Regions from separate parts of the Homo sapiens genome. Here region 1 is linked to region 2. The links come from fine-mapping of genetic effects on gene expression. A gene starts in region 2. The other region holds a variant in brackets. All regions are shown on one strand. Distances are between the middles of the regions.

The links. PIP is the estimated chance that this variant, and not a neighbour inherited with it, causes the effect.
Region 1: its variant is the best candidate, but not a certain one, in a credible set for the expression of NRBP1 in monocytes after Pam3CSK4 (Quach 2016, PIP 0.69).

What each region holds. Positions count from the first base shown.
Region 1 is chr2:28,345,726-28,361,849 of GRCh38, reverse strand. It overlaps LOC105374381 (a long non-coding RNA gene), which reads right to left and starts at 12,951. Exons shown (of 3, transcript XR_939873.3): 1 at 12,828-12,951; 2 at 12,328-12,486; 3 at 7,762-11,584. LOC105374382 (a long non-coding RNA gene) reads right to left here and starts at 3,473. Exons shown (of 3, transcript XR_007086256.1): 1 at 3,190-3,473; 2 at 1-2,061. RefSeq lists enhancers at 245-932, 1,331-2,530. The variant T/G (reference allele first, on the strand shown) is at 9,027.
Region 2 is chr2:27,417,264-27,433,387 of GRCh38, reverse strand. NRBP1 (nuclear receptor binding protein 1) reads right to left here and starts at 4,757. Exons shown (of 18, transcript NM_013392.4): 1 at 4,657-4,757; 2 at 1-134. The coding sequence starts at 114. RefSeq lists an enhancer at 2,571-2,870 and a silencer at 4,240-4,389.

The sequences.
Region 1 (16,124 bases), 930 kb before region 2:
ACCTCAGCCTCCTGAGTAGCTGGGACTACAGCCGCACATCACCACATCTGGCTAATTTTTGTATTTTTTGTAGAGACAGGGTTTCGCCACATTACCCAGGCTGGTCCCGAACTCCTGGGCTCAAGCAGTCCATCCTCTTTGGCCTCCCAAAGTGCTGGGATTAGAGGCATGAGCCACCGCCCAGCCAGACTTACAGCTCTTCTTTCTGATCAGAGTTGGGCAGCTGAGCCCCAGCGGGACCTGAAAGGATGGGAAGTCCTTGGGGCTAGGAGAGGGGCACAAGCCTCAAGCCCATGCCCAGCCCGGACCACCCTGTCCTTTCTGAGAACAGCTGAGGTAGAACCTGGTTCTCAGAGCTGGGAAGGAATCCAGAGACCATCTGACCTGAACTTCCATTGTACAGACAAGAACACTGAGGCTCGGGGAAGGGAAGAGACACTCCCAGGGCCCCAGGACTGATCCTGCCTCACAGCGAGCCCTTCCCACTGTCCATTGCTCTTTCGTGAAAGCCCCAGTAACCAGGCAAGAGGGTGGGCCAGTTCTGGGTTACAGGCAAAAGGAATCTTGGAGCATCTGGCTGGGCCAGTGGGATCTCTGGCTTGTCCCTTGGGGCTTTGTGTCATCCTGGGCCACGAGTCAGAAAAGCATCACTGGGACACCAACCCCAGGGCACCATGGCTTTTGGGGTCAGTTGTTGATGACAAATCCTCACGCGTAAGGTGCTGAGTCAGCCCTGGGAAAGGGGCAGGAGAGGCTGTCTCTGCTTGGCAGCTTTCCCTGGCCCCTGACTCCCGTGACCCTCTCCCAGCTCCACCCCTCCTCCCCACAGTGCTTCTCAGCCCCAGGCTTGCCCTCTGCTTGTAGCTGGTGGTGTCTTGAAAAAGGACCTGATGCTTCAGTATTAGGATGATAGCGGTAGAGACAGGCGAGAGAAAACTCCACAGCGAGAGACCAAGCTTCGAGCGTCCGTGCTGCCACCTGCTCCCCGCTGTGTGGTCTTGGACCAGTCCTTTCAGCTTCCTCCTCTGTAAAGCACAGGCCTGGTGGTGGCTGTCTGGAAGACCCTCTGCCTTCTAACACTTGGGGATTGTGAAGTACGGCCTCTCTCATGGTGTCTTTGTGTTATAAAGAAAAAGAACTGAAAAGAGGAGCCATAGCCCAAAAAGCTGTGACTCCACTGAAGAAATGCGGGTTCCAGGAGGCCTGTGGGAGGAATTGGGCTGAGGGTGTTTTGGTTGGGCAACCCCGCCTGCATTGCGTCCTCCCACCTCCTGCCTGAAACAGCAGTTCCGGCAGGCAGGCCCTCAGGGGCATCAAAGCTGAGCTGCGGCCCCACCCTGAGGCAGAGGGCCTGGGGCCTGGGGCGGGTGAGGACATATGGACAATGTGGGCACCACACCTGCCCCTACACTGCCACCCAGGCACACCCAGACACAGGGGACTTCCTTTAGGAACCCCCCAAACTCATGCCACCCTAGAGTGGGGGCTTGGAGACCCTGAGATTCCTGAGAAAAGTGAAGCCCCATTGGACCTCCCTAGACAGCTCTCTCTGCCCTCGTTTAAGCTGCCGACTGGCCCCCGCTCCACAGAAGGTGCCACCCACCTGCCTGCCACTCCCATCCACTCCCATGAGACGGAGCTCCCGCCTCAGCCAGCCCATCAAGACCAGTGTCTGGGCCCACGCTTTGGGGCCAGTTTCTCCAGGGAACCCTGCTCAAAGCATTGACAGAGTAAGAGAACGGTATCGAAGAATAAGCTTTACCTTACTTACGTAATCTCTCACCTCGAAGGCAGGGAGTTTGGCAGGTGAAGAAACTGAGGGCTGCGGGGGGTGGGGCTTCCTGGGTCACAGTTAGCAGGTGGGAATCGGGGCTTGAAACCGGGACCCTGCACACAGGCCTCAGGCTGGACGGCACCCAGCATGTGGGTGAAGAAGCTCCATGGTCTGGAGGCGAAAGCACAGGCCGGAGCCCCAGCAGCCTCCCCTCCCTCCTCTGTGTGCAGGCTGCGTCTGCCTCGCAGGGTCCCGTCTTATGGGACGGTGGTGAGGAGGTGACAGGGCTACAGAGACACATGGTCAGGATGCGTTATCGATATTATTATTCTTGCCACTATTATTGTGCCCGCCATGGCAAACGTGACTTTGCATGCCTCAGGTGCCAAGCCCGAGACCTCGTGAGACACCAGCAGAGACTGCCCCACCCAGCAGGTGACAAGTCTCTCACAGCACCCCAGGAAGCCGCCCTCTGGCCTCTGACGTCCGTCCTCTCCGGGGGCCTCTCCTTCCTTGTGGTTCCGTGTTAAAAAATCTCCCTCTGTCTTCCCCCTGACCCTCTGACCACAATGGCCTGGGCTCCCTGTCCCTCTGTGTGCATGGTGACTTTTGCTGAAAAGCAAACATCACTGGGGCGCCCAGCCTCGTGGTTTCAGGCTGTGCGGTTTACCTCATGACGTCATTTTCCTTCCTCCAGATAAACCAGAAGAGACTTTACTGCTCAGCTGGTCCTGGGGAAATGGTGCCTGCCCTGACTCGTGGAAGGTTCAGGGTGGGCATCTGGGCCGTAGCCAGGGCCGAGAAGAGGTCCCCAGGCTTAGCCAAGGCTCACAGTGACCTGTGTCTAAAGGAACGTTTCTGGCTCCTACTTTGTTAGCATAGACTCAGACAGCCCAGGGGCTGGGGCTCCCAAGGTGCAGAGGAAGGGTAGGGGGCCACAGCAGCCAGAGGCTTGTCCTGAAGCCCCTGACTGCCACCCCCAGCCACCAGAAAGGGTGGACCTTCTGGACCTTTGTGGCAGACCACCAGGCCCTGAGCCACCACCCACACAGGGAAGGAAGACAGTGGCAGCCCAGCCTGGAGAAACCGCCCCGTCCCCAGACCGGGTTGTCCCTTCTCCACGTCTCCTGTGCTGCCAGCCAGGTAGGGGACAGGGTTTCCCAGGGGCAGGCACAGGGGAAGGGGCCACCACCTCTCCTGAATGCCCACCCCTGCCCAAGCTCTGTGCTTTATGGTCTCTTTGACTGTCCTCACAGCCCTTTGAAGTCAATCTTTTATAGACTACTCTGTTTCCAGATGACAGGCCCAAGTCTCAGAGAGGTTTGGGACTCGCCTAAGATTGCAGCTAGCAATGGGCCTGGCACGCAGTTGGTACTCGGGAATGTTTGTTTCCCAGAAAGGAAGGGAGATGCTACCTTTCCTCCGAGAAGCAACCAGAAGTCTCCAGGCTTGCAAGACAGTTTCCCTCCTGAGGACAGCTGGAGCCGTGACAACGTGGGGCCCTGACTGGGCTGCGCCTCCTCTCTGAGGTGGCTGATGCATTCTGCTCCCTCGGGAGCTTGGATATCAGGCTGCGGTCTGGGGTCTGGAGTGGCCACAGCAACACAGAGTCATCTCTGTTCAGATCTGGCCACTGCTGGGGAAAGCCCTGGCCCTTCTACCTTCCCTGTGGGGTCCCCTTTCCTTCCACCTGCACCAGGTTCTCATGGGCTCTCTACCCATGCCCAGCAGGCTCCCTCTGCAGGGCACTGGGGCGGGGTCGGGGTCGGCGGGGCGGGGGAGTAGGAGTGGGCGGGAGGGCAGAGAAGACTGAGACAGAAGACATGTTCCTGTCTTCAGAAAATCAACGCTCTTTTCAGGACTCACCATAGGAACGATGACCACTGCCACCATCACCACGGTGCGGAATAATCACTGCACATCCTGAGCCCCAGCCTAAGCAGGTCCCACAGATGTCTCATTTTAATCCTCTTCCACTTTAATCCTTGTTAAAAAACAACCTGTGAGGTGGGTGCGGTGGCTCACGCCTGTAATCTCAGCACTTTGGGAGGCCAAGGCAGGTGGATCACTTGAGGTCAGGAGTTCGAAACCAGCCTGGCCCACATGGTGAAACCCTGTCTCTACTAAAAATACAAAAATTAGCTGGGTGTGGTGGTGGGCGCCTGTAATCCCAACTACTCTGGAAGATGAGGCAGGAGAATCACTTGAACCTGGAAGGCAGAGGTTGCAGTGAGCCGAGATCACACCAAGAGCAAAACTCTGTCTCAAAAAAAAAAAAAAAAAAAAAAAGCTGGGCACGGTGGCTCACTCTGTAATCCCAGCACTTTGAGAGGCCGAGTCAGTTGGATCACAAGGTCAGGAGATCGAGACCATCCTGGCCAACATGGTGAAACTCTATCTCTACTCAATTACAAAAAATTAGCCGGGCATGGTGGCAGGTGCCTGTAATCCCAGCTACTTGGGAGGCTGAGGCAGGGGAATTGATTGAACCTGGGAGGCGGAGGTTGCAGTGAGCCAAGATCGCGCCACTGCACTCCAGCCTGGGTGACAGAGTGAGACTCCATCTCAAAAAAAAAAAAAAAAAAAAGCCCAATAAAACAATAAGAAAAACAACCTGTGAAGTGGCTATTATTTTTCCCATTCTACAGATGAGCAACTGAGCTTCAGTTTCCTGTCCATCATCGCCCAGCTAGGAAGTGGCGGAGCTGGGAGTGGACTCTGGGATGCTCAGGCTGTAGGACCTGTGGTCCATAGCGTGCACTGTGCCTCAGACCTGAGGCAGAAGGATGCACCTTCCAGAAAGACGTGCTGTGCACATGCAGAGCATGAGATGCTGGGAGCCAGGGCCCTGTGAAGGGCCTGAACCTTGAGGACAGGCAGGAACTAGACTGGCAGGGGGAGGCACGGGCACTCCCAAGACACAGACTGGCCTGAGCCCAGTTTCAAGGGAAGGAGCCATGATGCCTGTGTGAGGGCAGCAAACTGTTCTATGGGGCCAGAGCCCAGGGCCTGGGGAGGGAGATCAAAGCCAGACCAGAGCAAAGCTGGTGCTAGGTGATAGTCTGCTGCCCACCCTCCCTTCCCGCTGTTCAGGCCTGGGCCCCACTCAGAAGTCTGTGTCCTCAGGGTCAAAGGCCCATCCAGGGTGGTGCCACCCTCCTCCACTTGAAGCCACTCTCTCCCATCTCTCCCTGTGGCCCAGATGCCTGCCAGGGTCAGCTGTTGGGACTTAGCCGTTCCAGGGAGGGAGGCCTGGGCAGCTCGGAGCCAGTGGGTTTGTGGGTTGAGCCAGAGGGCTGGAGAATGATCCCAGCTGATAGGGCCCACGTGGGTGGTCTCTGGGAGAGCCTGGGAGGGAACCAGGCAGGGCGGCTCTGTCCTTGGCCTGGGCTCCCAGAGCTCAGCTAGACTGTTCCTGGACAGGCTGTGCCAGCTGCAGGGCCTCCAGACCCCAGACTCTATCCCCGAGTCATCCATCGACACCAGGAGTCACTCCTAGGTAGACACAGCTGCCTGCTCGGAGCCCTGTGCAGCTCCCTCTGCCCCCAGTCCCCAGCCACCCTCTCCTCTCAGCAGCCTGTCCTCTGCTCCTCCATCCTCAGGAGCTGAGCCTCAGTGAAGTGGCTGCTAGGTGCTCCAGAGTGAAGGCAGGACAGGACTCTGAGCTGGACTGCCAGGCCCAAGGTGACTTGGAGGTGGGGAAGAGGCACGGCCACAGGCAGTGAGCCCTGAGCCAGAGGCGGCAGGGACAGTGTCTGAACCCAGCACTCCCTTCCTCACGCCCCTGGCAGGAGGCCCAGGCGCAGCGCCAGCCTCACAGGCTGATTCGTGACTGAGAAGCTGCCTCGTGGGCCCTGCTCTGGGTGGGAGGGGCCTGGGAAAGTCAAGTCTCTGGGCCTTCGCTGCTCTGTGGGGCCTGCCCAGGCTGTGTGTGGCTGCTGGGAGGCACCGAAAAGCCGTTTTCTTCATTAAGCATCTGTGTGGAGATGGAAGGAACCAACAGGGATGCCTCTCCAATCATACAGACTTGGGCCAGCCACCACCTCCTCAGTTCTTCACAATTCTCCTTGCTCTCCCTCCTGTTGTGGTCATTAATTTGGGAGGCTCTGGAGGGGGTGGGTGGCATTGTTCCCTGCCATCCTGCTGTCCAGAGCCCAGTTCCATCCCCGGCTCTGGAACCCTAGAAGATGCGAGGCCCCCAGGACACCATTGCCATCCTCAGTGGGCTGGGTGAGGCCTGCTCCGGGCCCACTCACAGGCCAAGCTTGAGTGACACAGGAGCCAGAGATGGGGCTACTGCAGTCCCCAGGCAACCTTATCTACAGTGGCAGCTGTGGCCACAGTAACCTCTCCAGTTGGGCAGGACGGTGAGGTCAGCCATCAACAGCCAGCCTGACCTTTCTGGAAGCCAGCCAGCCAGCCATGTCTGCTGCATCCAGGCAGGACTGCAGCTTAAGCTCTGCTCTTGGAGAGCTGGTTGCCCAGGCAGACCCATCCGTAGACACAGCTCTCTGCTTCAATGTCCCAGCCTGGGAGTCCGAGAAGGGGGCCTGGTCTGTGCCTCTCATCAGCTCCCGAGCACCAAGCTCGCAACCAGCCAAGTGTCCATTTTTAAGTGTTCCCGCCTGTAAATGAGGGCCTGGGACGGACTAATGCAGAGTGGGTAGTGCAAGGAGAACTGATGGGGACAAAAGGGTGGCCTGGCCTCCAGCCAGGGCTACTGGAGTGGGCAGGGCAAGAGATGATGGCAGCTTGAAGGAGGGGGGTGTGGGCAGAGGGAATGGGGCAAGGTAGGTGGATCTGAGAGAGATTTTGGGGTGAGAATAAACAGGACCGGTGACTGGATGTGAGGATTAGACAGTGGGGAGTTCTGTCTTGCACAACCTGGGGCGCCATGGCCTGAGCTGGAAGCCTGAGGCTCCCAACCTGCTGAGCGACTTGCCACGGGCTGATGCCCCCTGGGCCCGTGCTCTCATCCCTCAACTTCCAAGGGATCCCTGATCCCATTGACTTCCAAGGTGGGAACGAGTGAGGTCTCATCCTCTCTGCTCCAACCACCCTGCAAGTTTGGTGCTCTGGGAACTCATGTGTTCCTGTCTCCACTTGTAACTAAAACCATGAAAACTTGAAACACACAAAAGAAGAAGGGACTATCATGGCCCTGAGAGCCCATCACTCAGCTTCAAGGCTCATTGTCATCTTACCTTTTTTATTTCTTTTTTCTTTTTGAGACAGAGTCTCACTCTGTTGCCCAGGCTGGAGTGCAGTGGCATGATCATGGCTCACTGCCACCTTGACCTTCTGGGCTCAAGCGATCCTCCCACTTCAGCCTCCCGAGTAACTGGGACTAAAGATGTGTGCCTCCACGCTTGGCTAATTTTTTTATTTTTTGTAGAGATGAGGTCTCCATATGTTGCCCTGGCTGGTCTTGAATTCCTGAACCCAAGTAATCCTCCTGCCTCGGCCTCCCAAAATGCTGGGATTACAGGTGTAAGCCACCACAACTGGCCCTTCTTTACTTCTTAGCTAACTTAAAAAAATTTTGGTATTTTATAACAGTGCCAGACACTATATTATTTTATCCATAAATACTTTAGTTTTTATGTCCAACAGAATGAGGGATTCGTTTTTTTTTTTAACATAACTATAATGCCAAGTCTTAGCAAATGTTAATAAAGTTAACAATTTCTTTTTAAAAAAATTTCAACTTTTGGCCATGCGCGGTGGCTCACACCTGAATCCCAGCACTTTGGGAGGCTGAGGGGGTGTGGATCACTGGAGGTCAGGAGTTCGAGACCAGCCTGGCCAACATAGTGAAAACCCATCTCTACTAAATATATATATATACACAAAAATTAGCTGGGCGTGGTGGCGCGTGCCTGTAATCCCAGCTACTCGGGAGGCTGAGGCAGGAAAATTGCTTGAACTCAAGAGGTGGAAGTTGCAGTGAGCTGAGATCATGCCACTGCACTCCAGCCTGGGTGACAGAGCAAGACTCCATCTCAGAAAAAAAAAAAAATCAATTTTTATTATAAAGGGTACACCTGCAGATTTGTTACATGGGCAAATTGCATGACACTGAGGCTTGGGGTCCCAGGGACCCTGTCGCCCAGACCGTAAGCATAGTACCCAACAGGTGATTCTTCAGCCCACACCCCCCTCCCTCCCTTCCCAGTCCAGTGATCCCCAGTGTCTACTGTTCCCATCTTTATGATCATGTGTATTTAACATTTAGCTCCCACTTATAAGTGAGAACGTGGTATTTGGTTTTCTGTTCTTGCATTAGGTTGCTTGGGATTATGGCCTCTAGCTCTATCTATATTGTTGCAAAGGACATGATTTCATTCTTTTTATGGCTGCATAGTATTCCATGGTACAACAATTTCTTAATATCATATAAAACCCAGTTCAGGCCAGGCGTGGTGGCTCACACCTGTAATCCCAGCACTTTGGGAGGCCTAGGCGGGTGGATCATTTGAGGTCAGGAGTTCAAGACCAGCCTAGCTAACATGGTGAAACCCCATCTCTACTAAAAATACAAAAATTAGCCGGGTGATAATGGTGCGAGCCTGTAATCCCAGGAGGCTGAGGCAAGAGAATCACTTGAACCCAGGAGGCGAGGTTGCGGTGAGCTGAGGTCATGCCACTGCACTCCATTCTGGGCAACAGAGTGAGACCCTGTCCCCCCCGCACCCCCTCCAAAAAAAAAAAAAAACCCAGTTCAGGTTCCCACTTCCCTGGTGGTCTCATCCTTCTAGGAGCAGCAGGGACTTGGTTTCTAGGCATGGGGAGATTGAGCAATCTATTCCTATGGTGCTTAGCCATGTGCCAGAGGCTGGGCTGAATAGGCGACAGGGACAGGCCCTGCCCCAGAGGAGTGCTCAGGTCACTACCACTGGCCGCTGCACGGAGAAGAGTCTTCTTCCTCCACCAACCTGGAGTCCAGGAAGACATAAAATCTCCTGCCTCCCCAGCCTTCCCAGGAGAAACTCAATGGGGCGATGAGGCCCTCTAATGGGGTCCGCACCTCCCTCCAGCCCCTTTTTCTGTTTGCCCTTCTCCGCGCACCCTGTGTGCCAGCCAGCTGGCGTGACCAGGCCTGACCGCTGGCCCAGAACACCCCTTCTTCTCCCTCCCTTCTGGGTCCTGCTCCAAACCTCGTCTGTGCAGCTCCCGCTGACCGGCCAGGGTTATTCAGGTGTCCCCAGCCTACCCCTACCCCCCACCATCCTGCTGTGACGACTGCTCAGTG[T/G]GTCTGGGAGTTTCCAAAGGGCAGGACAGTGTCTGCTGCATTCTTGTGTCCCTAGTGGTTCACACATAGCCCTCCGTGTCAAGGAGGTGCTGTGTTTGCCGTATGACTGTGGCGTGCAAGTAAAGGCAAGAATAAGTGGGGGAACAGGGAGACGATTGGCAGGGTGGGAGAATGGGTGAATGCTGTCTCCAAGTTCTCTGTCCATCTTCAGAAGCTGGGAAACAGATGGAGCCAGTGAAAGTGTTGGGGACACTTCTCTGCCTTGGGGAAGACGTCTCCCACCCCTTCCCAACAGCAAAGGCCTGCCGCTCTGGTGTCCCCTGTCCCTGGGCTCTCTTCCCTGCTGGCCTGTCTGCACCCCCAGGGCAGTTTCCCTCCCCAGGGCAGGCTGGGAACAGCCGTAGGGAGCACAGCTCACGCCCAGACCCTGTGCCTGCTGGTGGGGTCTGTTTGCACAGGGTCATCTGGTTTCAATCCAGTGAAGTCTTAAAACTTTTCCATGGGAACTTCTTCTATTTTAAGCTCCTCCCGGATGGGCTGGACAAACTCAGCCTGAGGAGGCTGTGAGTTCCTGGGCTGCTGCTGGTGGCCTCACCACCCCCAACTGGTCCCCAACAGACAGGAGCAGGTAAGGCTTGGGGCTCAAGGACTCCGGCCCAGCTCCAACCGTTACCCATCAGAGGATCTTGAGCAAGTTTCTGCTTTCTGGGCCTCAGTTTCCTCATCTGTACAGCCTAGGGTTAGTAACAGGGAGCCAAACTGCCGGAGTTCAAATCTGGCACCACCCCTGAGTTAACTGTGTGACTTTGGCAAGGCTACTTAACCTCCCTGGGCTTCAGCTATAACATGAAATAAGTTGAGTTGCTGGGATTACATGAACTGGTGCCTGTGAGTACACAGCACAGTGCTGGGGATATGTGGAAGCCTGTATACTCAGTGCTGGTTGTTACAGATCTATTTCTTAGCGGAAACCCATGGTCGTATGTGTTTCAGAATGTCTGCTTCTGGAGTTTTAAAAAGGTAATATGCATATTCCAATGTCATGTATAACCCAGTGAGATCTGGGGAAACACCCCATGCTCAAACACATTACGGTTTCCTCATTGAAATGTGAATCTTTACTCAAAGTGAGAGAAAAAAAGGACTTAGGTTAGGCTAGGTTTTGCTAAATAAGGTATGGAAAAGCCAGCCGGGCACGGTGGCTCACGCCAGTAATCCCAGCACTTTGGAAGGCCGAGGCGGGCGGATCACGAGGTCAGGAGTTTGAGACCAGCCTGACCAACGTAGTGAAACCCTGTCTCTACTAAAAATACACCAAATTAGCCAGGCGTGGTGGCGGGCACCTGTAATCCCAGCTACTCAGGAGGCTGAGGCAGGAGAATCGCTTGAACCCGGGAGGCAGAGGTTGCAGTGATTCGAGATTGTGCCACTGCACTCCAGCCTGGGCGACAGTGCGAGACTCCATCTCAAAAAAAAAAAAAGAAAAGAAAAAGGCTTTGGATTTTCAGAGCGTTGGGAGTTTGGAATTGTGGACAAGGGATTGGGGACTGTATTGTTATTGTAATTATGTGTTTAGGAAAAAGGGGTGGTCCCTCCTGCCAGAGGGGGCAGGTAAGCCTGCTGGGAAGAGGGCAGCCCCTCCCTGCAGGCTCAGCAACCACTGGGTAAGACTTGGCCCTGTAGATGGAAACCTTGTATGCAACAAAAGGCATCCCTTCCTCTGGGCAGGCAGTACCACATCGGCAAACCACACAGCCTAACAGGGCGGCCCTGCAGGCCGACGGGCCCTGGTGGGCTGACATCACCCTCACCGGTGTGGACACTCTGAAGGCCCACCTGCGTCTGAGCGGTCACGGGTAACGTAGCTGGCCCATCACATAGCTCTGAAAGGAGCTCCTTCAGGTCAGGACATCTGTGGCTCCCCGAGCTATACCTCCTGACCCATCTCCCTCCCCAGCCCTCCACTCTGGTCACTTGGGCCAAGGGGTGTAGGCCCAGGGCTGTGTGGGAGGAGGGAATGAGCTCGTTTCATCTTAGAATCCGAGTCAGAGTGACAAGTCTGGGCTGGATGTCCCCATGGGGTCATTTTATCTCACCCACCCCTCATCCTATGGAGAGGGGTACAGTGCCCTGAACATTAGCACAGAGCTTTAGCATTTATAAAGCCCTTCCACAGGCTGTGATGTGATATTAATAAGAGTCTCATCCCCGCTGTCCTATGTTTTATTAAAACCAGGACTCGGAGTGAAGTGAGCTGCTTGGGGTCACACTGCAGTGCGTGGTGGGGCCCAGGTCGCCTACCTACCTGTTGAGTGCTCTCCTCCGCAGACCTCACTGCCTCTGGGTCCACTACAACTCCACGGTGGCCTCCCAGGGACGCCTTCCCTGCCGGCCGCTGAGGATGCTGGGAGCAAATACCGGGCCAGAGGCAGGGATGGGAGAGGACAAGCTGGGCACAAGCCCGGGAGGGACCCGGCCCTTGGGTCCCAGGAGCTGGCGGGGATTGCGTCCTCCGCCTCCGCTGCGTCTGGCTTGCGGAATTCCCTCTTGCTGAATGCCTGAGGATTAAACACAACACCTCAGCTCATAATGAAATATAAAGAGCAAACAGGACAACAGCTGAGGTGGATGAAGGAAATTAATACTTATAAAGTGCTTTGAGCCCCTGGAAGAAAAGACAGACCAAACTCAAAGCCTCCCTCCCCTGCTCCCGTCAGCCTATCAGGCAGCCAGGGTGGCTCTGAGCCTCCTCATGGAGGAAGAGGAGGAGGAAGAGGAGGAGGAAGTGGAGGAAGCTCAGGCCCAGTATGGGTGTTGGGATCAGACTTGGGACTATCTGGTGGCCTGGGACTGCTCAGCCCTGGAAACCCAACATGGGCACCTGTCCCGGGTCTGAGCTACTCAGGAAAACACTCCCCTCCCTCTGGGGGCTTTCTGGGCTGGCTGAGGTGATGCAGGGGGTGGGCACGACTTTGGAGGCCGGTGAGTCCACCTCAAGACTTGCCCAGGGGTCAGTCCTTGGTACGGGCAGAGGACAGTCACCTCCGCCATGTCCACAGCTCATGGCATCAGCGAGGAAGGTGGGCTGGACACTGGCACAGGGACTCCCACGGACAGCCTTGTCCTGTCCCTCCTCTGCTGTGTCCTCCTGCAGCCACCTGGTCACCTCAGCTCGGCTGGGAAGGCCTTCAGAAGCCAACTCTTTCAACCATGGCCTCTCTTCTCCTCACTCCCACTCTAGGTGCAGCCTCGCAGCCTGGAGGCTCAACACGCTTCTCACTGTCTCACGGAAGGCACCCACCTCGGCCCTTCCTCCACTGAGCTGCCAGAATATTCCAGCACATTCACTTCTTTCCCCCAGCTCTGCAGTCTTTGAGGCATGAACTGACGCCATCACCACGTTCGTTTCTCCCTGTTGTTTGCTGACCAATCTTAGGTGACTCTGACCCAGGTGCGTTTCCTACAGAAAGGTACAAGTGATTATTTATGGGATAGATATATAATAGGGAAAAATCAAGAAATAATTCAAATGGCTAAAAAATAACGGAAAGGGGTAAGTGAACTATGGAGAAATATGAGATGGGTTCACCAAAGATGGCAAGATGGTAAACACTCGGGAAACAAAATAGAAAAACGAAACAAGATCCGCAATTGTTTTCCATTGTTTTTAAGCATGTTAACAATGAATAGGAAAAAGACTGGAAGGAAACCCCTTTAGTCCTCAGACCTCAGCTGGGATATCATTTCCTGCCTCAGAATAAATAAGTACAAAATATTTGTTGAACGCTGTTAAATACCTACACGCTGAGCGTGGTTCTGTCTGGAGGAGGGAGCCTGCGTCGTTTCTGGTGTCTGCTCCTTTCATAAGAGGAAAAGTTCAGGTGCGGTGGCTCACGCCTGTAATCCCAGCACTTTGGGAGGCCGAGATGGGTGGATCACCTGAGGTCAGGAGTTCTAGACCAGCCTGGCCAACATGGTGAAACCCCATCTCTACTAAAAATACAAAAAATTAGCCGAGTGTGGTGGTGGGTGCCTATAATCCCAGCTACTCTGGAGGCTGAGGTGAGAGAATCACTTGAATCCGGGAGGCGGAGGTTGCAGTGAGCCGAGATTGCACCACTGCTCTTTAGCCTGGGCAACAGAGAAAGACTCCATCTCAAAACAGACAAACAAACAAACAAAAAACAAAAAAAAAACAGAGGAAAAGTCTCTCGTGCTAGCCGTTTTGCTGGCAGTGGCATGGGCGGGTTGGAAGCCTGCTGCCCGCTGTGATACCTGCCTGGGAGCCCACCTTCCAGGTCACACCCACCTCTGTTGACCCAGGCCCCGGGTGGCAGAGCTTTTGGGCAGAACATGGCTGGCCCTTCTCAGGCACTCCGGGGGCCCTGTTCGCCTGCTTCAGGCAGCTGGATTCTCTGGGGCTGAGTGAAAGGGGAAGGCAGCCTGGCACGGGGCACCTCCTCCCCACTCTCCCCTCTGTCTAGTGGGTGGGTGCCAGGGCAGGTCCCAGAGGCTGGCTGAGGCCGGGGAGGGCAGGCAGGATGGGCGTCACTCCCGTTTCCTTTGCAGTTCGTGGTATTGTCACCACCTCCTCAGGGCACCTCCACCAGGCCCCTAACCTGACCTGGCAGCAGCGGGGGCAGTGTGTTAGGTGGTGGCAGTGGCAACCTGCTTACGTTTTCACGTGGCCATGACCTTTTACTGTCCCCAAAGCCTCCCCTCACCGTATCTGCCTTGTTCTTAGCACCAGCCTGTGAAACAGGCTTGGTATTTTACAGATGAGGAGGTCTAGGTCAGGGAAGCCACCGTCAGTGTGGTCAGGGACGGCCAGCCAGGACTCAGCTCACCGCGATCTCCTTAACCCCCACTGCTCCTTGCCTGTCACCTCAGACGTTCTGGATGCAGGGACAAGCTCCGCTGGGCAGGTTCTGGAGGGACCCAAGGCAACGCCCCGGGGCTGGGGCCTGGGGCAGGCTTCGGGAGGAGAGCTGGGGACTACCGCTTTCACTTGCCTCTTCCAGGCCTTGGCTCAGACGTCACCTCCTCAGCCAGGCCAGCCCTGCCTCTCTGGCTAAAAATGCACTCCCACCCCTCCCTGCTTTCTCTTCCCTGTGCTTGGCTCCTAACATTCCCTCTGTATATCTTGTTCATACCCCCTCTCCCCTGATGGGAATGGAAACCCCATGAGGGCAGGGGTTGTGGTGCTGTATTTACTGCTATACTGCTATAGAATGGTGCCTGGCACAGAGTAGTTGCTCAACATGACTGCATGCATGAGAACCAGACCTTGTGTGCACCTCAGCCCCATGGGAGAGTTCGCCAGAAACCGAACCACCACAATGAAGCAAAGAAACCAAGAGTCTAAAACCATGCCCAGCTGGCCCCTCCTCCAGGAAGCCCTCCAGGATTTGCTTCAGCTGAACGCCAGCAGTGTGGATCTGCAGCTCTGTTATGTGGCTTACCCCAGCCTCTCCCATCAGTGGCAGGGGTGTGCACTAGCCCCAGCTTCCTGGCCTTTCAGGCGCAGGGCTAGGCTTATCCATACAGTCCCAGTGCCAGGAACAGAGAGGATGCTCGACAGATGTCTGTCAAGTGCATAAATGGGATGCAAGTTCTGTTGCTCCCCGAAGAGTACCCACTGCTGGCACACAGAAAGAGCTTAGCCGATGTGTGTGGAATGGATGAATGGCTGCCTGGCCCAGTGCTGCTTTTCCATTCCATTTTACATCAATGCTTTGCCCGTCCTGACCTGTCAGAGCCCAGACTTGTCTGCTCACCTGTGTCCTGGTCACACTAGGCCCATCTTGGTCAAGGCCTTTTGGCTCCAGGATGACCCAACACCTCTTCCTGCAGCCTCTGCAGGCCTGGCCACCCCACCCTGGGTGTGGGACACTCCTCAGGGCCTCTGGACCACAGAAGACAATACCCTCTCCAGCCCTGGAAACCCTGCTTCTGGCTTTGGGCTGCCTGTCAGGGCGGCTCACATGTGAGCAAGCAGGCACTGCTCCAGGGGACGGACGGGTACTGGAGAGGGAGCATCTCATCTTTCAGCCGACAGCTGTGGATGGTCACACTCTGTGTTTATCCTGATTCTCCAGATAGATCACGGACAGCCCGCAGTGCAGGGGCTGGCCTGCAGCAGATCAGCAATGGGGCTGTGCCTGGCAGTCAAGACTTGAAAGAAGTCTAATGTTTATTGTATGTTTTCCAGACAGGAGAACCCCCTGGCTAATCCTGTGTTCTAGATTTGACAGAAAACATGCCCACTCTGTGGGGTAACTGGTCCTTAGTGCCCACTGGAATCCTTAGAAAACATGCCCACTCCGTGGGGTAACTGGTCCTTAGTGCCCACTGGAATCCTTAGAAAACATGCCCACTCCGTGGGGTAACTGGTCCTTAGTGCCCACTGGAATCCTTAGAAAACATGCCCACTCTGTGGGGTAACTGGTCCTTAGTGCCCACTGGAATCCTTAGAAGGCAAGTACATGAGTTATTGGTTAAAAGCGGGGAAATAAATTATTATTTAATAAATGTAACTTGGCCAAGGATGGTGGCTCATGCCTGTAATCCCAGCACTTTGGGAGGCCGAGGTGTGAGAATCGCATAGCTGAGGAGTTTAAGGCTAGCCTGGGTAACATGACAAGACCTCCGTCTATATAAAAATACAAAAATTAGCCAGGCATGGTGGTACGCACCTGTAGTCCCAGCTACTTGGGAGGTTGCGGTGGGAGGATCATTCGAGCTCAGGAGATGGAGGCTGCTGTGAACTGAGATTGTGCCACTGCACTCCAGCCTGGGTGACAGACTGAGACCCTGTCTCAAAAAAAAAAAAAAAAAAATTTAAAAAAGTAACTTAATAGACAAAACCTCTGGAAACAAGGGAATTTAGGAGCTTGACAGAAGTGACGAGTCAGGGCCCCCAGGTCGCGCTGCTTAGCACAGGCTTACAGGGGAGCTGTGGGAAGAGAGGAGGGGGAGGCGGCAGGTGGATAGCCTTGGGCAGAGGGCCTGGGAGCTCATAGAGGTGGACAGCTGGCAGAGACACTCGAAGTGGGAGTGGCTCCAGCAAGAGGACTGGACTATCGTATGGGAGAGGCC
Region 2 (16,124 bases):
GGTTGTGGAGGTCACAGGAGGTGACACTGATGTCAGGCCAGGAGCTGAAGATGAGGATTCTACCTTTGGGTCTGAGCCACTGCTAAGTACTGTCTGGGACTCCCCCTCCGACATGCTGGAAGGAACACTCAGGCCTGCACTGGTTGGGGCAAATACAGAGGGAAAAGGCAGAGAAAGTCAGGATACATCTGTAAAGATTTAGTAATCCAGGCTGGACGTGGTGGCTCATGCCTGTAATCCCAGCACTTTGGGAGGCTGAGGTGGGCAGATCACCTGAGGTCAGGAGTTCAAGACCAGCCTGATCAACATGGTGAAACCCCATCTCTACTAAAAATACAAAATTAGCTGGGTGTGGTGACGCGTGCCTGTAGTCCTAGCTACTCAGGAGACTAAGGCAGGAGAATTTTTTTGAACCAGGGAGGTGGAGGTTGCAGTGAGCTGAGATCACGCCACTGCACTCCAGCCTGGGTGACAGAGCAAGACCCCATCTCAAAAAAAAATTTAGTAATCCAGCTGAGCACAGTGGCTCACCTCTGTAATCCCAGCACTTTGAGAAGCCGAGGCAAGAGGTTCATTTGAGGCCAGGTGTTTGAGACCAGCCTGGGCAACAAAGTGAGACCCCATCTTTACAAAAAAATTTAAAAATTAGCAGGGCAAGGTGGTACACAGCTATAGTCCCAGCTACCCGAGAGGCTGATGGGAGAATCACTTGATTGCCCAGGAGTTTGAGGCTGCAGTGAGCTATGATCATGCCATTGGCTAGGCAACAGAGGGAGACCCTGTCTCAACAAAAAACAAACAAACAAAAAAAAAGATTTAATAATCCTAATACTTATCTGCAAATTCAAAAGAAAATAAAACAGGCCAGGCATTTGAGACCAGCCTGGACAACATAAAAAGACCCCAGTCTCTACACAAAACTTTTAAAAATTAAAAATAGAAAACACACACCACCTTTGTTTCCTTTAAATCCAAAATCAGAATCAGTCCTAAATACTGAAACATTAACTATTCTCCTAACTCTAGTCTAGAAAAGGGGAGCTATCTTAGTTGAAGATGACCCTCCCAGGAATGACAAACACAAGATTTATGGCAGTCTAATCCCACTTAGAGTAAGGTTCAAATCACCAGCAAAATCAGGTGCTCCATTCCTTCTTGGCAAATACTCATCCAATAGGCTTCCCTTTGAATCCCCAAGTACACCCTATTTTTACTGTGCTCAAGAATTAAGCTATGTGTGGACGGGCACAGTGGCTCACGCCTTTAATCCCAACACTTTGGGAGGCCGAGGTAGGTGGATTACCTGAGGTCAGGAGTTCGAGACCAGCCTGACCAACATGGCAAAACCCTGTCTCTACTAAAAATAAAAAAATTAGCTGGGTGTGGTGGCACGCACCTGTAGTCCCAGCTACTCAGGAGGCTGAGGCAGGAGAATCACTTGAACCCGGGAGGCAGAGGTTGCAGTGAGCTGAGATCGTGCCACTGCACTCCAGCTTGGGCAACAGAGTGAGACTCTGTCTCAAAAAATAAAAAAATATAAACTATGTGGGCGCTATTCAGAACAGATGACTCCAGACTCCAAAATGTTTCAGTGAGACAGCCTTAAGGCTAGACCTGTAGCACCCTCAGCCAACTTATCCAGCTGAAACCCTTGGCTAATTTATCCAGCTAGAACTAACCTTGGCATTCACTATCCATCCCTTCTCTACACAGAACAAGCCCACTAGTCCATGGTGAGGCTACCCTTGGGGCACATGACTGGCAGTTGTTAGTGACTTCATCCCTGATGACCTCACCTTTCCTGTGATGTGAGTGTGACAAATGGGTATTGGTTAACAACATTTTTTTTTTCATTCACTCATTTAACAGATGTTTTATTAAGCATTTATTGTGGGCCAAGCACTGGGCTAAGTCCTTGAGATACAATAACAAACAAAATAAATGCCCACATTCAAGCAGCCACAAATTCAAGCCAGAGCTAAGACTTTAAGCTTCCAGCTTTCATTTCATTCACATTGCTCAAAGGCTCTGAAGTTTCCATTCTCTGGGGGACTAGATCTGATATAGGTTATTTATTTTTTGGCAGAGGGGATGGAGTCTCACTCTGTCACCCAGGCTGGAGTGCCGTGGTGCAATCTCGGCTCACTGCAACCTCCGCCTCCCAGGTTCAAGCGATTCTCCTGCCTCAGCCTCCCGAGTAGCTGGGACTACGGGCACGTGCCACCACACCCAGCTAATTTTTTGTATTTTTAGTAGAGATGGGGTTTCACCGTGTTAGCCAGGATGGTTTCAATCTCCTGACTTCATGATCCGCCCGCCTCAGCCTCCCAAAGTGCTGGGATTACAGGCGTGAGCCACCACACCCAGCCTAGGTTATTTCTTACAAGTATAAATAACTCAAGGTACAACTTTTATAGGAAAAAGTATTATACAGCATAACATTTTCAGGGTCATGGGTACTTGAAGAAAAAGAATTATTGAGAGCTAAATGCCATTAACTTGTACAAAAAGTCACAAGACAACCACTTAATGTTATTTCATATCTCTAAGAATAAAGACTGTGAAGGAGTTGGAACCTGTGTGTGCTCAGCTCAAGAGAGTTCTCTACAGTATGAAAGAGATACCCTGGGCCAGGCAAGCTGGCCCACGCCTGTAATCCCAGCACTTTGGGAGATGGTGGCAGGCAGATTGCTTGAGCTCAAGAGTTCGAGACCAGCCTGGGCAACAAAAAAATACAAAAATATACAAAAATTAGCAGGGTGTGGTGGCGCACGTCTATAATTCCAGCTTATTCAAGAGGCTGAAGCACGAGAATCACTTGAACTCAGGAGGCGGAGGTTGCAGTGAGCCCAGATGGCGCCACTGCACTCCAGCCTGGGTGACAGAGTGAGACTATGACTCAAAAAAAAAAAAAAAAAGAAAAAAAGAAAGAAAAGAAAAAGAAACTGATACCCTGGAAACTAAATGTGCTCCTCTAAGTTCAGAAGTCTCCAGTCAACACACCAATCTTTTGAAAAGCCCACATTTATTTTTAGAACTCTCTGATGCCCATTTGTGCCCATCTCTGCCCCCAATCTACACTACGTTTAACTCAACTCAGGAGATTTTTATTAGAAGACAGTCTAGTAAATACCAAAGAGCAATAGGCAGTACAGAGGAAATCTGGCAAGATATTCTTTCCCTATGTTATTTTCTAGATCCTGACTTATTCTAGAGAGATTTGCCAGGCGCGCTGGCTCATGCCTGTAATCCCAGCTACTTAGGAGGCTGAAGTGGGAGGATCGCTGGAGAGGGATTTAACTCAGCCAGCCAGGAAAGCTACTATCTGCCTGTTTTAGTAATCTACCAGAAAACTTCTGTTAGAGATCATGTTCCTTCTTCTGAAAAGTAGCTAAGAAAATGGTAAGACACTATTAGTTACTTCCTTGAGCAGCTGCATTCACTGAATGCATCTAAAATCTGAACAACTAAATAAAATTCCCAGCCAGACTACAGTAGGAAATAACAGTAGAATTCTAATACAGGAAAGCTGTAGCCAATGGGCTCCAGAGAAACTTCTGGACCGAGGACACAAATAACTAATCCACAGTAGGGCACCACAGGAGACACCAACCCTTCATCAGAGATAGATGCCCTTGGAATTTGCTTATCCCCCCCACCTTCCTAATTTTTGTGACTTTTTATCCCTTCCTAATTTTTCCTTCGCAGGCAAAATGAGGGCAGTGCCCAAGATTCTCCAGCACTACTCCTATTGATGAAGAAACCTCTGCGACACTGGGAGTTTTGTCTCGGAGCCGCTGAGAGGTTTTAAAGAGATAACACATGGAAAAGCTCATATACTCCCATAAGGGGATTCTCGCCGCCTCCAGCCACCCTGAGACATGCAGTGTGTTCACTTTGGAGTAATGCAGATCGCCCTGCAAAGTTTTTCCCCGACACTTTCGTTTATTGGACAGCAGCCCCTCTGCGTGTCAACTCCTCTGCAAGAGCTCACGGGCCCAGGCCTCTCAGCTGTCCTCACCCTGAACGGACCAGAGGGCCTCTGAGACCCGCAGCACAGTCCAGTCGGAAATAAAACCGCTCTGGGGAGGAACCCGGCCCCTAGAATTTCACACTCCAACAGGTCGCATGCCCTGCGTCTGGAAGGCAGCCGCGGCCCGCGCGGGAACCAGGCTGGGGCCCAGGGAGCCAGCGGCGGCCACCTCATCAAAGGCCGGACCGACAGCGCAGTCAGGGGCGCAGGCCACGCCCCCGCGCAGTCTGCGCACCTCCCCGCGAGCAGGCCAGGCCAGGCCGCCGAGCTTCCGCAGGCCGCCGGGCCGCGACCGCCGCCCCCGCCCCCGCCCCCACCCGCCGGGCCCCGCCTCTCGCAGCCGGAGTTCCAAGCGAACGCCAGGGCCTCCCGACCCGCGCCCGCAGAATCCCGGGGCGCCGCCGCCAAGCCAGAGACGCCAGGGAGGGCTAAGCAGCGACTGCGGGGCCGAAGCGGCCCCTCGGCTCCAGCAGGCAGGGCCCGATCGGGCCTGGGCTACTGAGTGAGCAGGGCCGCCTTCAGCACCCGACTGGCGGGTCCCACCGTCCCGGGCCTCGGAGGCCGATCCTTCCGTCCTCTCGCGAACCCCTCCCTCCCGGGCCCTCTTTTCCCTGGGCGCTCACCTCCCGACTCCGCGCCCCGCAGCCTGCGCTTCAGCTCCAGCTCGGGTTCCGGGGCCCCGGATCACAGCGACTCCCTCACAGCTGCGCTCCGCAGCGCAACCGAACTGCGGGCCCCGCCCTCGCGGCGCCCGGACCAACGATGGGCGGTGCCGCACCGCCGGCAGGTTTCCATTGGGTGACGTTCTGGGTGGGCGGGGCCCGGCCCTCGGGCGTTCGCTGGGGTGGGCTTCCACCCGCTCTCCTCCCCTTGCGCCGGTCCGGCCGAGACCTCTCGGAGGGGTCGATGTTTTCGGTCCCAGCTGGGGCTCGTCTCTCTGTCCACCCCACCGCCCGGTCCAGGTGCCCCAGATGGTTCTGCTGGACGCAGAGAGGGCCTCCTACCTCTTCTTGAAGGCGCCATGACAGTTCTAATGCCTGGAAAAGACAAAAGGAGCGAAAGACATAGCCTCAGTCCGAGAGGAGCGCCCCCACCCCAGCCCCCGCCTGCATTATTTTGGAACGAGACTGGTGTGCAGGACGCCAATTCTCCGGAAAGCTTTTAAAATTTACCTAACACTGAAAATTAGTAGTTAACGCTTGGTGATTGCTTAGCACTATTTGCTTAAACTTTGTAAGAGGTTTTCACAGATGTTATTTCATTTGATCCTCATAAGAACGAACTCATTGAAATTATCATTCAATGGTAGTTGACAAATGCAAAAACCTGAATCAGAGGTATTAAGCTATTAACCGAAAGTTAAGTTGGTAAGAGCCAAGTCTAGAATCCGAAACAGTAAATTTCATCAAAGGAGACTACGTTGAGAAGATGTTTGGAAAGAATTTAGATTGGTTTCGAGTTAGTGGAAAGAAAAGATGATAAATTCTTGGTGAGCTATTAATCTGCGAAAACTAAGCGCGGAGCCTTCAGGATGGAAGTTCACTCTGCCCTTAGACGTGTATGATGGAGGGAAGATGATGAATCAATCAACAGAACTTGGAAATGTCACAATCACCAAATTTTACTGTCATTAAAGAGAATCTCTAATCCTGTTTCACTGGGAGAAAGGACAACTGGCAGAAACCCTCTCGTTTTCTCATCATCTCAAAATACTCGTTTTTAAAACCAATCTTTCGGCCGGGCGCGGTGGCTCACGCCCAGCACTTTGGGAGGCCGAGGTGGGCGGATCACTTGAGGTCAGGAGTTCGAGACCAGCCTGCTCAATGTAGTAAAACTCCGTCTCTACTAAAAATACAAAAATTAGCCGGGCGAGGTAGCACATGTCTGTTCTCTCAAGCTGCTTGGGAGGCTGAGGCGGGAAGATCACTTGAGCCCAGGAGGCAGAGGTTGCAGTAGGCCAAGACTGCACGACTACGCTCCAGCCTGGGCAACAGAGTGTGAGAATCCGTCTCAAAAAAAAAAAAAAAAAAAAAAAAAAAAAAATATATATATATATATATATATATATATATATATATATATATATGTATGTATGTTTTACCCTTTCTTCCTTGATTCTTCTATCTTTGGAAGAGGGGGGCTCAAACACCCTTTTTAAAATCTGATGTAACTTATGGGCCTTCTCTTGTACTTTAAAAAATGCACTTACCCAACAAATTTAGGATATAATTTCAGGAAACTGAGGTTAAGAATCTTTGCTCTGGGCTGGGCGCGATGGCTCATGCCTGTAATACCAGCACTTTGGGAGACTGAGGCGGGCGGATCATTTGAGGTCAGGAGTTCAAAACCAGCCTGGCCAGCATGGTGAAACCTCGTCTCTACTAAAAATACAAAAATTAGTCAGGCGTGCTTGTGGGCGCCTGTAATCCCAGCTACTCAGGAGGCTGAGGCAGGAGAATCACTTGAACCCGGGAGGCAGAGGTTGCTGTTAGCTGAGATCAGGCCACTGTACTCCAGCCTGGGCGACAAGAGCAAGACTCCACCTAAAAAATAAATAAATAAATAAATAAAATAATTTCTTGGTTCTAATCTCAAAGGAAAAGATTAACCTTTCCTTCCTGTGGGCTCAAAAGCAATTGGAACACCTGGCCCAGGGTAAACATTCATTAAATATCAGTTCATGTTATCATTAGAGTTTCCCATTCTCTTCTGCCTGGGGCTTTATCATTATCAACCTTCCGCTTTCAACTAGGTCCTTTCAAGTATGCATGGAGGACCCTTTGGCATCCTCTAGCTCTCATTTTTAACCCTTCATTACATTTAAAATGATCAAATACTACCTGCATTTTCACCACCTCATGTATTTATTTTTTCCTGCTTATAAAAATAATTCATGCTCATTGCCAAAAAACAACGCAAAAATATTCCCAAAACTATTTTAGTATAATGTAATATTTATATAGTAGCTTCTATGTGTTAGGCACTTTTAATTGCTTTATGACAACAATGCTGACAACAGTAATATGAATATTAACAATTTCTGTAGAAAGTGAAATCTCTTATAATCCTACTTCCCCCGATAATTAAGACTTTGGTGTATTTTTTTTTTTTTGAGGTGGAGTCTCGCTCCATTGCCCAGGCTGGAGTGCAGTGGCACGATCTTGGCTCACTGCAACCTCCACCTCCCAAGTTCAAGAGATTCTCCTGGCCTCAGCCTCCCGAATAGCTGGGACTACAGGCGTGTGCCACCATGCCTGGCTAATTTTTTGTATATTTAGTAGAGACGAGGTTTCACCGTGTTAGCCAGGATGGTCTCGATCTTCTGACCTCGTGATCTGCCCACCTTGGCCTCCCAAAGTGCTGGGATTACAGACATGAGCCACCGCGCCTGACCTTTTATTTTTATTTTTCTAAGTATATATTCACATATGTGTATATAATTTTAAATGAAAACAAGTTTATACTACATAACCTTTTTCACTTTTTTCTATGGCAATGCACATGGCCCTACTTTAATTTTTTAACCACTACTTTAATTTTTTACTTTACTTGGGTTTTTTTTTGTTGTTGTCTTTTTGTTTTGTTTTGTTTTGTTTTTGAGATGGAGTCTTGCTCTGTCGCCAGGCTGGAGTGCAGTGGCGCAGTCGTGGCTCACTGCAACCTCCGCCTCCTGGGTTCAAGCGATTCTCCTGCCTCAGCCTCCCTAGTAGCTGGGATTACAGGCACGCACCACCATGCCCAGCTAATTTTTGTATTTTTAGTAGAGATGGGGTTTCACCATGTCGGCCAGGCTGGTCTTGAACTCCTGACCTCGTGATCCGCCTGCCTCGGCCTCCCAAAGTGCTGGGATTACAGGTGTGAGCCACTGCACCCAGCCTTTTTTTTTTTTAAGACAGGAATCTCACTCCGTCACCCAGGCTGGAGTGTGGTGACTCAGTCTCGGCTAACTGCCACCTCCACCTCCCAGGTTCAAGCGATTCTCGTGCCTCAGCCTCCCAAGTAGCTGGGACTACAGGCATGTGCCACCATGCCCGACTAATTTTTATATTTTTAGTAGAGAGAGAGTTTTACCATGTTGCCGAGGCTGGTCTTGAACTTCTGAACTCGGGCAATCCGCCCGCCTTGGCCTACCAAAGTGCTAGGATTACAGGTGTGAACCACCGTGCCCGACCCTTTACTGGTTAATTTTTAACCAGCAGAATATTCCACTGTCCAAATATGCCAGCATTTAATTAGTAACTACCTGTGGACATTGGGATAACATTCATCATTTATTATTATAAATAAAGCAGCAATGAGCATTTAGCTACATATATCTTTTTTTTTTTTTTTTTTTTTTTTTTTTTTTGTGAGATGGAGTCTCACTCTGTTACCCAGGCTAGAGTTCAGTGGCACAATCTTGGCTCATTGCAACCTCTGCCTCCCAGGTTCAGGCGACTCTACTACCTCAGCCTCCTGAGTAGCTGGGATTACAAGCATGTGCCACCATCCCTGGCTGTATTTTTAGTAGAGATGGGGCATGGTGGCACACGCCTGTAATCCCAGCTACTCGGGAGGCTGAGGCAGGAGAATGGCGTGAACCCAGGAGGTGGAGCTTGCAGTGAGCCGAGATTGGGCCACTGCACTCCAGCCTGGGTGACAGAGCGAGACTGTCTCAAAAAAATTTTTAAAAAAAGGCACCTGGCCACGGTGGTTCATGCCTGTAATCCCAGTACTTTGGGAGGCCAAGGTGGAATGATCACTTGAACCCAGGAGTTTGAGACCAGCCCGGGCAACATAGTGCGACCCTGTCTCTATAAAAGAATTTTTTTGGCCGGGTGCGGTGGCTCACACCTGTAATCCCAGCACTTTGGGAGGCCGAGGCGGAAAGATCACGAGATCAGGAGATCGAGACCATCCTGGCTAATACAGTGAAAACCTGTCTCTACTAAAACCAAAAAAATTAGCTGGGCGTGGTGGCGGGCACCTGTAGTCCCAGCTACTCAGGAGGCTGAGGCAGGAGAATGGCGTCAACCCTGGAGGTGGAGGTTGCGGTGAGCTGAGATTGCGCCACTGCACTCCAGCCTGGGTGACAGAGTGAGACCGTCTCAAAAAAAAAAAAAAAAGAATTTTTTTTTGTAATTAGCCAGGCATGGTGGCATGCCCCTATAGTTCCAGCTACTTAGTAGGTTGAGGCAGGAGGATCGCTTTAGCCTAGGAGGTCAAGGTTGTGGTGAGCCGTGATTGTGCCACTACACTCCAGCCTCTGTAACAGAGCAAGAAACTCTGGTATAGAGAGAACAATGGATATAACTTTGGGTACGTTAATAGGAAGAGGAATAGAAAGTAAAGATAGAGGAGAAAAATTAAGATAATTTTTCTTAATTTAAGAAACAGAGAGAAATGAAATAAATCAGTATTATGAAAAGGAAGTGAGTAGAAAATTTTAAGAAAGAGCTGTTCAGTAATCCCGAATGCTGAAGTGATCATGGAGAATTAAGAATAAAAAAGAGCTTTGCAGTAGAAACTTATAATAAATTGAGAGTAAAATTCCAGTAGCGAGAGGATGAAATTAACATTGTAGGAGATTGGGAAGACAATAGAATTTTTCTGATGTACAAAGAGCCCTTACAAGCCAGAAAGAAAAAAAATGATCAACTCAGTAAAGAAATAAACAAAAAAACTTGAATAGGCAAGAAATTGAAGAGGAAATACAACTGGGCAATAAACATAGGAAAAGATGTTTAGCTTCACCTATAATTAAATAAGTGCAAATTAAAACAGGATATCTTTTTTTAATTAATGTATCATCAAAATTAAAAAGATTGATGTTACTTGGGCCAGGCATGGTGACTCATGACTGTAATCCCAGCACTTTGGGAGGCCGAGGCAGGCAGATCACGAGGTCAGGAGATTGAGACCATCCTGGCTAACACAGTGAAACCCTGTCTCTACTAAAAATACAAAAATTACCTGGGTGTGGTGGCACACGCCTGTAGTACCAGCTACTCGGGAGGCTGAGGCAGGAGAATCACTTAAACCCAGTGAACCTGGGAGGCGGAGGTTGCAGTGAGCTGAGATCGCACCATTGCCCTCCAGCCTGGGTGACAGAGCAAGAGTCTGTCTCAAAATAAATAAATAAATAAATAAATAAATAAATAAACAAATATTGGTATTACTCAGTGTTGGTAAGGATGCAGGGGAAGAGGAACCCTAACATACTCTGGGTGGTATATTTTTGAAAAGCAACTTGGCAATATCTATTCAAATTTAAGATGTTCTTAGCCTTTTAAATTTTTTATTTATTTATTTTTGAGGATTCTCCATACTGTTGTCCCTAATGGTAGTACCAATTTACATTCCCACCAATAGTGTACGAGAAGGGTTCTCTTTTCTCTTTTCCCCACATCCTCACCAATACTTGTTATATTTTGTCTTTTTTTATAACAGCCATTCTAACAGGTGTGAGGTGATATCTTACTGTGATTTTGATTTGCATTTCCCTGATTATTAGAGTACTTTTTTCATATACCCGTTAGCCATTTGTATATCTTCTTTTGAGAAATGTCTATTCAGGTACTTTGCCCCCCGGCCTTTTTTTTTTTTTTTTTTTTTTTTTTTTTGAGACAGAGTTTCACCCCTGTTGCCCAGGCCAGAGTGCAATGGTGCAGTCTTGGCTCACTGCACTGCAACCTCCGCCTACCGGGTTCAAGCAGTTCTGCTGCCTCAGCCTCCCAAGTGGCTGGGATTACAGGCACCTGCCACCACGCCTGGGTAATTTTGTATTTTTTGTAGAGACAGGTTTTCACCTTGTTGGTCAGGCTGATCTGAAACTCCTGACCTCAGGTGACCCGCCCACCTTGGCCTCCCAAAGTGCTGGGATTACAGGCGTGAGCCACTGCGCCCGGTCACACCAGGCTAATTTTTGTATTTTTAGTAGAGACAGGGTTTCTCCATGTTGGTCAGGCTGGTCTCAAACTCCCAACCTCAGGTGATCCTCCCACCTCAGCCTCCCAAAGTGCTGTGATTACAGGCCTGAGCCACTGCGCCCAGCCATATTTTTTGTATTTTTAGTACAGACAGAGTTTCACCATGTTGGCCAGGCTGGTCTGGAACTCCTGACCTCAGGTGATCCACCCACCTTGGTCTCTCAAAGTGCTGGGATTACAGGCATGAGCCACCGTGCCCAGCCTGTTTTTCTTGCTATTGAGTTGTTTGAGTTTCTTATATATTTTGGATATTAACATTAGCCCTTATCAGATGCATAGTTTGCAAATATATTCTCCCATTCCATAGTCTGTCTCTTCGCTCTGTCGATAGTTTCCATTGTTGTTGTTGTTTGATGCAATCTCACTTGTCTATTTTTGAGACTACTCATTTCTATTTGTTCTAAGTCTGAGCTTCCCTGGTGACCTGCTAACCTAATTTCCCATGTGGACTATAACTTGCATTGTGACATGCCAGTTGCAGAACTCTGTAAATTTACTGAAAGTCATTAAATTCACAATGAGTGAGGTTTGTTTGTTTTTTTCTTTAGAGACAGGGTCTTGCTCTGTTGCCCAGGCTGAAGTGCAGTGGTGTGATCATAGCTCATTCCAGCCTCAAACTCCTGGGCTCAGGCAATCCTTCCACCTCAGCCTCCCAAAAGTGCTAGGATTACAGGTTTGAGTTGCCGCACCCATACTCCAATAAAACTGTCTAGAATCTTTGAAGGTCTTAGTTCCCACAGATCAGGGCAATTGGAAAACCTATTGGGTTTCTGCTCTAAGTTTTGTTTTTTTTTTTCTCAATGTGAGGCTTGCAAGCCATGCCTTCAATCTAATCATTTCTCTAGGGATGTGGTGTGGATCCTTTCTTCCAAAAGAGCCTTTTTTCAAACTGAAGGCCAAATAAAAATTGCATTTACATTTCTGTATGATTTCAAACTAAATAAGAGAAGCCTAGATTTCTTGATAATTGTGAATTAGCTGAGGTGTTTTAAAACACACATCTCCAGGACCCTCCCTGGATCAGCTGAATATGATTCTTGGGGTCAGGGAGACTTGAGTTTCTGCATGGCTAAGAATTTTTCCAGGTGATTCTGATACAGATAGCCTGTCATTAGGCTGAAGGATAGTAACCATAACCCTAGCTCACACCTTATCCTTGTCTTGGAATGATGCCTTGGGGCATTGCCTCATACCTTAGGCCTCTGAGCTTCATTTTAAAAGTTATTAAATGGGAACATTATTTGGCTGTATACCTGTAAGTCCTATCATAAGGAACTGAGTCAACTTCTAAGATAAACAAATACATAAATAGGGCCACTGAGAAATAAAAAGACAAACATAGCCCAATTAAATCTTAATTCAGCTGAGATTATTTGATTTCCACAATTGTGTTCAATTATGTTCAAATCAAATTCATGTATTATTTATTTTGCCCTTTTTTTTGTTTGTTTTTGAGACAGTCTCGCCCTGTTGCCCAGGCTGAAGTGCAGTGGCCCAATCTCGGCTCACTGCAACCTCTGCCTCCCAGTTCAAGCTATTCTTGTGCCTCAGCCTCCTGAGTAGCTTCGACTACAGGTGCGTGCCACAATGCCCGGCTAATTTTTGTATTTTCAGTAGAGACTGGGTTTCGCCATGTTGGCCAGGCTGGCCTCGAACTTCTGGCCTCAAGGGATCCACCCCTGTCGGCCTCCCAAAGTGCTGGGATTACAGGTGTTAGCCACCTCGCCTGGCCGTGTTGTTGTTGTTTTGTTGTTGTTGTTGAGATGGAGTCTTGTTCTGTCACCCAGGCTGGAGTGCAGTGGCATGATCTTGGCTCACTGCAACCTCCTCCTCCCAGGTTCAAGCAATTCTTCTGCCTCAGCCTCCCGAGTAGCTGGGATTACGGGCACCCGCCAGCATGCCCGGCTAATTTTTGTATTTTTACAAAATTACAGGCATGAGCCACTGCACTGGGACTTAAATTAAAATTTTTGATAATCCAGGAGATTACCCTGGATTATCAGGGTTGGCTCTAAATGTGATCACAAGTATCCATGTAAGAGGAAGGCAGAGGGAGGGTATGAATACAGAAAAGGAAATATGACCACAGAAGCAGGGTGGAGTGATGGCAACGAATACAGGCAGCCTCTAGAAGCTAGAAAAGGCAAGGAGCCGGATGCGGTGGCTCATGCCTGTAGTCCTAGCACTTTGGGAGGCCGAGGTGGGTGGATCACCTGAGGTCAGGAGTTCAAAACCAGTCTGACCAATATGGTGAAACCCCGTCTCTACTAAAAATACGAAACTTAGCTGGGTGGGCACCTGTAATCCCAGCTACTTGGGCAGCTGAGGCAGGAGAATCGCTTGAACCTGGGAGGCAGAGGTTACAGTGAGCCGAGATCGCACGCCACTGCACTCAGTCTGGGCAACAGAGTGAGACTCCGTCTCAAAAAAAGAAAAGGCAAGGAAACAGATTCTCCCCTAGATCCCCCAGAAGGCACTAGTGCTGCCAACACCTTAACTTTATACCAGCGAAACTAATTTCAGATATCTGTCCTCTGGAATTGTAAAATAATAAACGTGTGGCACTTTATATCACCAAGTTTATGGTAATGCGTTACAACAGTCATAGGAAACTAATACATACGGTTTCCCAAAGAACAAAGTTGATCTGTCTGAGCTGCGTTCTAAATGATAAATAGGAATTCAACAAGCAGTTAAGGAAGTGAAGAAAAGTCCAGTGAAGACTCTCCAGTATTGGAAGTCAGGAACTTGGACCATAAAACCTATGGTTTTCCACTCCAAGTTTTGTGAAGATGTCTCACTTTTTAGCAATAATAGTTGAAAATTTCGAACCTGGGTGTGGGTTTCCTTTCTTTTGCCTTACCTCCAGTTTTGCAGTTTGAAATTTAATCTTTTTTAAAAAATAAAATTTATTGTCTAGGCGCGGTGGCTCACGCCTGTAATCCCAGCGCTTTGGGAGGCCGAGGCGGGCGAATCACTTGAGGTCAGAAGTTCGAGACCAGCCTGGCCAACATGGAGAAACCCCATCTCTACTAAAAATACAAATATTAGCCAGGCGTGATGGCACGCGCCTGTAATCTCAGCTACTCAGGAGGCTGAGGCAGTAGAATCACTTGAACCCGGGAGGCGGAGGTTGCAGTGAGCCAAGATCGTGCCACTGCCCTCCAGCCTGGGCGACAGAGTGAGACTCTGTCTCAAATAAACAAACAAACAAACAAACAAATAAAATGTATTACGTCTTGGAGGGAAGAGAGGAGACTTTCCAGAGAGAAATTCTTCTTTTTTTCTTTTTTTTTCTCAGACCTCTCAGGGATGAAAAGGAGAACATTCTTCAGGAAATAAATGAGAAAACTAGAGAGATAATCAGATCACTGATACTTGTTAATTGTTGGAGCAGGTTTGGAGAGAGAGTGACAAAGATCTCGCCAAAAACAAGTAAAGAAATTCCTTGCCTGATTTGTTTGGTATTAAGAGAAACAAAATAATAAAAAGAACTCTAAGTTTGGTATGACTAACAAAAGAATAAGTTAATTCACACAGAATGCAGCACAAAAACTCGGGATATATAGATATAGTTAAAAGATGGGGAGGCCAGGCACAGTGGCTCACTCCTGTAATCCTAACACTTTGGGAGGCCCAGGCAGGCGAATGCCTGAGCTCAGGAGTTCGAGACCAGCCTGGGCAACATGGTAAAACCCCGTCTCTAGTAAAAATACAAAAATTATCTGGGCGTGGTGGCATGCGCCTATAGTCCCAGCTACTTGGGAGGCTGAGACAGGAGAATCACTTGAATCTGGGAGGCAGCGGTTGCAGTGAGCCAAGATTGCGCCATTGCACTCCAGCCTGGGCAACAGAGCGAGACTCCATCTCAAAAAATAAATAAATTAAAAAAAAAAAAAACCCGTACATGGATCTCCTAAGAACAAATAAGGATTTTTTTTTTTTTTTTTGAAATGGAATCTGGCTCTGTCTCCCAGGCTGGAGGGCAGTGGCGCAATCTCGGCTCACTGCAAGCTCCGCCTCCCGGGTTCACGCCATTCTCCTGCCTCAGCCTCCCCAGCAGCTGGGACTACAGGCACACGCCGCCACGCCTGGCTAATTTTTGTATTTTTAGTAGAGACGGAGTTTCTCTGTGTTAGCCAGGGTGGTATCGATCTCCTGACCTCATGATCTGCCTGCCTCAGCCTCCCAAAGTGCTGGGATTACAGGCGTGAGCCACCGCACCCGGCCGAACAAATAAGGATTTTAAGAGACAGTTCACTCTATATCCTTACTGAAAAGAAAATATGATCTCTCCCTGCCCCCCCACCCCCCACTGGAAGGACACAATCCTGCTAAAGACACAATTATTATTATTATTATTTTGAGACAGGGTCTTGCTCTGTCACCCAGGTTGGAGTGCACTGGTGCAACCACACCTCACTGCAGCCTCAACCTCCCAGGCTCAAGCAATCCTCCTACCTCAGCCTCCCACAGTGCTGGGATTACAAGCATAAGCCACCAAGCCCAGTCACAATTGATTTTATTTTATTTTTTGCGACAGTCTCGCTCTGTCACACAGGCTGGAGTGTAGTGGCACGATCTCGGCTAACTGCAACCTCTGCCTCCCAGTTTCAAGAGATTCTCCTGCCTTGGCCTCCGGAGTAGCTGGCATTACAGGCGCTCGCCACCATGCCCAGCTAATTTTTTTGTATTTTTAGTAGAGATGGTTTTCGCCATGTTGCCCAGGCTGGTCTCAAGCTCCTAAGCTCAGGCAATCCGCCCGCCTCAGCCTCCTAAAGTGTTAAGATTATGGGCGTGAGCCACCATACCCAACCCACAATTTATATTATTAATAAAAAGATAAACCCCAGCATATCAGTCTGAAAGACCTGAATTTTGGTTAATGGTCCTTTTGTGACTTTCTTTAGGATAGAGATAGGTATTTCTTTTATATGTGTCTAAAGGGCCCATTCTAGTGATTTCCATGAGTATAGGCAGATTGCTTCAAGATTAATTTATGTCTTGCCTTCTAGAAATAGAAAAGTACAGCTGTAAAACATAACACTTTTTTGACTTAAAAAAATAGTTTCATTTATTGGGCACTTGTTCTGCGTTCCTTTAGGGGACGGTCAGTCAGGTGC